2 linked regions of the Homo sapiens genome follow. The protein of the gene in region 1 purifies or fractionates together with the protein of each later gene. This does not show direct contact. Each region holds a gene or a part of one and is shown in the gene's direction. Other genes may lie near its edges.

Region 1 (3,500 bases):
GTCCCAGCTACTTGGGAGGCTGAGCTGGGAGGATCACTTGAGCCTAGGAAATCGGGGCTGCAGTGAGCCATGTTTGGGCCATTGCACTCCAGCCTGGGTGACAGACGGAGACCCTGTCTCAAAAACAAAAAAACTTTATTGGTTCAAACAGCAATTCCTTTGAACTTAGAACAGTGTCTAGCACATAACTAGCTAGCTACATGTTTACTTACTAATAGTAGTTACAGTAATAGTAGTAAGAGTAGCAGCAGCAGGGCAAGAACAGCAAAATGAAAAACTTCAGTAAATCCCCTGGACTCTTTTTTTTTTTTTTTTGAGACAGAGTCTCACTCTGTCACCCATACTGGAGTGCAGTGGCACAATCTCGGCTCACTACATCCTGACCTCTGGTGATCCACCTGCCTCAGCCTCCCAAAGTGCTGGGATTACAGGAGTGAGCCACCGCACCTGGCCATGGACACTTTCTGATTGAGCTAAATGTTACTTTTGTTCCTCATGTAGAAAAACCTGGAAATTGAACTCCTGAAACTAGAAAAAGATACAGCAGATGTTGTTCATCCTTTCTTTTTGGGTAAGTGGTTTGGTTAAGTGGATAATCACTGGAATTTCAACTTTTTCTTGGATTACTGTAAATAAGCACCAGTCAGTCAAATTATGATACACCATCATTTTTCCAGGTGTTGTCCCAAAGCTAATGAAATCTTGTATTTCTATGCTGAAATAGAAGTTCTGTTGGCTTGAGTAGTACAAATAGCATAAAAAGTCACCAAATTGGCTCTTCAAAGTCAGGAGAACTTGAAAGACAAAGTCTGAGGAACTTTTCAGATTAAAAGAGACTAAAGGGACATGACAACTAAAGCACTGTATGATCATGGATCGATTTTTTATTTTAATGAGATGGGGTCTTCCTATGTTGCCTAGGGTAGTCCTGAATGGCTCAAGCAGTCCTCCCAAATCACCCTCCCAAGTAGCTGGGATCACAGGTACATACCACCATGGCTGGCAATGTTTTGAATATTTGATGAGAAAATGTTCTTGTGGCCAGGCGTGGAGAGTCACGCCTGTAAACCCAGCACTTTGGGAGGCCAAGGTGGGTGGATTGCTTGAGCCCGGGAGTTCAAGACCAGCCAACATGGTGAAACCCTATCTCTACAAAAAAAATACAAAAACTAGCCAGCATTGTAGCATGTACCTGTAGTGCCAGTTACATGAAAGGCTGAGGCAGAAGGATTGTTTGAGCCTGGGAGGTCGAGGCTGCAATGAGTTGTGATCGTAGCACTCCACTCCAGCCTGGGTGACAGAGTGAGACCCTGTCTCAAAAATTAAAATTCTTTTTGCTGTAAAGGACATTATTGGGATACTTAGTGATGTTTAAATATGGACTGTATTAAATATTGGTAGTATTGTATTAATGTTATTTTTTGAATTTGATAATGTGCTGTAGTTATATAGGAGAATGTTCCTCTTCTTGGGAAATACATGCTAACGTTTTACAGGTAAAAAATATCATGCTGTCTGCAGCTTACTCTAAAGTGGATCAGCAAAAATTAGAGAGAGAGAGAGAGAGAGAGAGAAGAGAGAGAAAGAAGATAAAAAGAAAATGTAGCCAAATGTTAATAATCGGTGAATAAGTAAAATGTATGTGTGAGTTCACCAAGCTTTTTTTGAAACTTTTCTGCAAATCTGAATTTTTCCAAAGAAGAATTTTAAAGAAAGGTCAATTGGCAGCCATTAACTGAATGGGGAAAATAATGAGATAATCAGAAATAGCTTGTAGGATGACTTTTTTTTTTTTTTTTAAGAGTGTGTCACTCTGTAACCCAGGCTGAAGTACAGGTCGCTGTAACTTCAACACGTGGTTTCAACTGATTCTCTCAAGTAGCTAGGACTACTGGCATGTGCCACCATGCCCAGCTAATTTTTGTTTTTTCAATTTTTTTGTAGAGATGAAGTCTTGCTATGTTGCCCAGGCTGGTCTCGAACTCATGGCCTCAATTCTCCCGTTTCAGTCTCCCAAAACACTGCGATTACAGGTATGAGCTAGAGCACCAGCTAAGGTGACTCTTTTTCGATGGTCTTTTATAGACTATTAGAGTCAGGGATAGGAAAAAAGACTTTGTGTTAAGAATATAGCTCTGGCTATAAGAACTGAATAAGAAGTAGAGATGAGAAACACAGAGAAAGAATTTAGCACTAGATTTGGTTATCACTAGGAAAAGAGATAATAGAAATATATTAGATATACAAAAACCGACTAAGAGAAAGTTGTTGAAAATGAAATTGGTATTGGTATTAAAGACAGCAAAAAGGAGACAGGAGGGTAATGATAGGATGAATTTTTGACATGGGTAGTGTCAAACCAAGGCAAAGAAGAAATTATTCTGTTATTTGTCCTATTGCTAACTATAATTACTGTTTTTTAATTTGTATAGCTCAGAAGTGTCATACTCTGCAAAGCATGAATAATCATTTGGAAGCAGTGCTGAAAGAGAAGAGATCCCTTAGGCAAAGACTGTTGAAACCCATGTGCCAGGAAAACTTACCTATTGAAGCTGTTTATCACAGGTTAGACTGAAAAGTAGAAATTAACAGTTACACCTGTTTTCTGAGTTTACTTTTTGTTTTGCAGTTACTTTGTAGCAGAATTCATAAAACAATTAGTGATTGTATTTGTTAACATTATTAATGGTGATATATTAAATCAGAAAGAAAATCTTTGCTTTTAAACCATTATACCTATGGCAAAAAGGAAGAACTTGGCCATCGTGTTTTGGGAATTATAAATTATGAGTTTAATGAAAGAAATTAGATCCATAACATGTAACAATAAAAACTGTTTGTATGTGAAGTAAATTCATTGTTGTAAAGTACATTCATTGTTGAGTTAATGTTGCCTATATGTAAAAATTCTATTGGCGGGGTTTAACTGGGGCAGATGAAAACACTATCAACTAAGGGAGGAAAAAACCTGGATTCTGTTCTCATCTCTACTGTTTATATGCCTCAAAGCCTTGAGCAAATGATTTACATTTTTGCCTTAGTTTCCCAATAAATAGAATAGAGATGAGTTCTATTGCCCTCTTCCTCACAGAGTATTACAAGTATCAAATTGAAGATGTAGATTATGACTAATGATAAATACTAGCCTGGACAACATGGCAAAACCCTGTTTCTACAAAAAAAAAAAATATAAAAATTAGCAACACATGATGGAACACACCTGTATTCCTGAGCTGGGAGGGTGACCTGAGCCCAGGAGGTCAAGTCTGCAGTGAGCTGTGATTGCACTAGCCTGGGTGACAGAGTGAGACCCTGTCTCAAATAAATACGAAGCAAGCATCTGGGGATCTCATTGCTAACTTTCTCCGCCAGTGCCTCACTAGCTTAAGCAAATCAGTATCTTAAGTGTCAGATTTTTTATTTTGTAGGAAAATAATAGATATACAAAAACTTATTCTTCCAAAAAAACAAAACAAGGCTGGGCACAGTGGCTCATGCCT
Region 2 (3,500 bases), on another chromosome or scaffold:
TGTTTATTTGGGATAGAGCATTGCAGTGAAAATACATGCCACATGCCATAGTAGACTGTGTGGATATTCGCATATTCAGGGAGGTAAAGGAAGGCAAGGGTTTTGTTTTTTTTTTTTTTTTTGAGACGGAGGCTTGCTCTGTCACCCAGGCTGGAGTGCAATGGCACAATCTCGGCTCACTGCAACCTCCACCTCTCAGGTCCAAGCGATTCTCCTGCTTCAGCCTCCCGAGTAGCTGGGATTACAGGCGCCCACCACCACATCTGGCTAATTTTTTTTTTTTTGTATTTTTAGTAAAGTTGGGGTTTCACCATGTTGGCCAAGCTGGTCTAGAACTCCTGACCTCAGGTGATCTACCCGCCTCTGCCTTCCAAAGTGCTGGGATTACAGGCGTGAGCCACTGAGCCCCGCCTGGCAAAGGTTTTTAAAGGAAAAAAACATAATTGTTTTGAGATAATGATCCTTGGTTGCAAAGATCAATAACAAGATTAATGTCCGTCCAAGGTTAGACAGGCAGTTGCTGGGCAGATTATCCTTGCAGAAGTTTCTGTGTGCGTGTAAGGTTGTCATAGCCTTTGTGCAAGGTTGCAGTTTTGTGTGTGTGTAAGGTTGTCATAGCCTTTGTGCAAGGTTGCAGTTTCGTGTGTGTGTGTAAGGTTGTCATAGCCTTTGTGCAAGGTTGCAGTTTTGTATGTGTGTAAGGTTGTCATAGCCTTTGTTGCAGTTTTTGCCATCTTTAGTGACAGTTTTTGTTATCAGGCATGGAAGTATGAGAATCCTCTCTTCATAGCTTTCCCCAGCTCTATTTGTCAGGTTTTTTGGTTTGTTTGTATAACCCTAATGGCTCCATTTTTATTCTGACAAATTCCTTTTTTTTTTTGAGACGGAGTCTTGCTCTGTCAGCCAGGCTGAAGTGCAATGGCGCAGTCTAGGGGCTCACTGCAACCTCCGCCTCCCAGGTTCAAGCGATTCTCCTGCCTCAGCCTCCCGAGTAGCTGGGGTTACAGGCATGTGCCATCACACCTGGCTAATTTTTGTATTTTTAGTAGAGATGGGGTTTCACCATGTTGGTCAGGCTGGTGTCAAACCCCTGACCTCTTGATCTGCCCGCCTCGGCCTCCCAAAGTGCTGGGATTACAGCTGTGAGCCACCACGCCTGGCTATTCTGACAATTTTCACAATGGAAACAATTTAGGGCACTTGTGTACGGTTGGCTGGGCAACCCACCCGCCACAGGCCCAGCTGCCACTCTGGCCTGAGACATGCATCTTAAGAGTGATTTGGGTGGCTGGCACAGTGGCTCACGCCTGTAATCCCAGCACTCTGGGAGGCTGAGGCAGGCAGATCACCTGAGGTCAGGAGTTCGAGACCAGCCTGACCCATATGATGAAACCCCATCTCTACTAAAAAATACAAAAATTAGGCCAGACGCGGTGGCTCACGCCTGTAATCCCAGCACTTTCGGAGGCCAAGGCGGGTGGATCACCTGAGGTTGGGAGTTTGAGACCAGCCTGACCAACACGGAGAAACCCAGTCTCTACTAAAAATACAAAATTAGCCGGGCGTGGTGGCGCATGCCTGTAGTCCCAGCTACTCGGGAGGCTGAGGCAGGAGAATTGCTTGAACCCAGGAGGCGGACACTCCAGCCTGGGCAACAAGAGGGAAACTCTGTCTCAGGAAAAAAAAAAAAAAAAGAAATACAAAAATTAGCTGGGCACGGTGGCATGCACCTGTAATCCCAGCTACTCAGGAGGCTGAGACAGGAGAATCACTTGAACCCGGGAGGCAGAGGTTGCAGTGAGCCGAGATCGCGCCATTCCACTGCAGCCTGGGCAACAAGAGTGAAACTCCGTCTCAAAAAAAAAAAAAAAAAAAGTGATTTGGCTCAGAGATAAGTGCTTATTTGCCTTGGGATTAACCAGGATGAAACCTGTCAACCTGTGGTTGGGTTACGTTTCCTGTTCTCTAAGTCTACATTTCCTCATTTTTTAGCATCTGAAAGCAGGTGAATTTCCCCAGCCTGATTTTCCAGATGACTACAATTTGGGAGACATTTTCCTAGGAGTGGAGTATATCTTCCATCAGTGTAAAGAAAATGAAGATTACAATGACGTCCTGACTGTAAGCGGGGATGCTGAAATCATATAACCTGGCTCATGGAACATGGGCCTTGCAAAGGGGTCAAGATCACAACCCTGCATCCATGTGTGTCCGTGGGTACCGTAAGGGCTACTGGGGGAAGAACCTGTAAGCAGGGTGTGAGGAGCACCCAGGCTGGGTAGGGACTGCATGCCCCATGCCACAGTTGAAGGAGGGAGAGAACACGCTGTGAAAACACAGAAGCTCCCAGAGAAGCCTTCTCAGCTTTTATCTCTGGAGTAGAGCAGACTATGTTGAGCTAACACAGACCTGCTGAATCAGCTTCTTTCTGAGCTGCCAGAAGTACAGAAGTTGGAGCCTCCACCACCTTCCAGATCTGTTTCTCCTCAGTGTAATCCACCTATGGGTTCTTCCTGCCCACTGCACAGACAAAACCAATTCACTGCAATTGTGGTATTGCAGTAGAGAAAGAGTTTAACACAGAGCTAGCCAAGCAGAAAGGCTGGAGTTATTATTCAACTCAATCTCCCAGAGAACTCAGAGGCTACAGTTTCTACAGGCAATTTGGCAGGCAGGGGCTAGGGAATGCCTGCTGCTGATCGGCTGCAGACGGACCATGGGGTGTCAACGATTTTTGTCCCCTGAGTCCGCCTCTGCGTGGAGCCACGGGATCAGCTGAGTCATGAGTCTCAGGTCCAGGTGGAGTCTGTAGGTTGCCAGAACTCAAAAGTCTGAAAAACATCCCAAAAGACCATTCTTAGGTTGTACTATTGACGTTATCTTATTGGGGAGCAATTGGGGCGGTCACAAATCTCGTGACCTCTGGCTGCGTGAGTCCTGAGCAGTAGGGAATTACAGCAGGGCAAGCTGGGGAAGCAAGGCCTGCGGGCTGGTTCTCCTCAGGACACCTACATCTGAGCAGAATTCAGGCCCCTCCCATCATCCTAATCTTGTGGCCCTTCACAAGCTTCACAGAGGTGGCTTCGGTCTTGAGCAAGGAGGGGATTCGTTTTAGGGAGGGATGATTACTATTCTTGATTTAAAGTTAAACTCTAGATTAAATTCCTCCCGTGGTTAGCTTGGCCTGTGCCCGGGACTGAGTGGGGACAGCCACGCAAGTTAAACTCTAGATTAAATTCCTCCCGCGGTTAGCCTGACCCGTGCCCGGGACTCAGTGGGGACAGCCACGCAAGTTAAACTCTAGATTAAATTCCTCCCGCGGTTAGCCTGACCCGTGCCCGGGACTCAGTGGGGACAGCCACGCAAGTTAGACTCTAGATTAAATTCCTCCCGCGGTTAGCCTGACCCGTGCCCGGGACTCAGTGGAGTCAGCCACACAAGTTAAACTCTAGATTAAATTCCTCCCGCGGTTAGCCTGACCCGTGCCCGGGACTCAGTGG

What was found. The genes of interacting proteins can lie anywhere in the genome.
Region 2: the proteins of HAUS2 (region 1) and YBEY purify together in Homo sapiens (affinity purification with mass spectrometry; one large-scale study listed by BioGRID and IntAct). This does not show direct contact.

Annotation. Positions count from the first base shown.
Region 1 is NC_000015.10:42,558,838-42,562,337, forward strand, and holds part of HAUS2 (HAUS augmin-like complex subunit 2), read left to right. Parts: intron 1-501; coding exon 502-571; intron 572-1,944; coding exon of another isoform or gene 1,945-2,033; intron 2,034-2,432; coding exon 2,433-2,565; exon of another isoform or gene 2,566-2,853; intron 2,854-3,500.
Region 2 is NC_000021.9:46,289,342-46,292,841, forward strand, and holds part of YBEY (endoribonuclease YbeY), read left to right. Parts: intron 1-1,992; coding exon 1,993-2,121; coding exon of another isoform or gene 2,122-2,148; exon of another isoform or gene 2,149-3,177; intron 3,178-3,500. UniProt on the Homo sapiens protein: Single strand-specific metallo-endoribonuclease involved in rRNA maturation.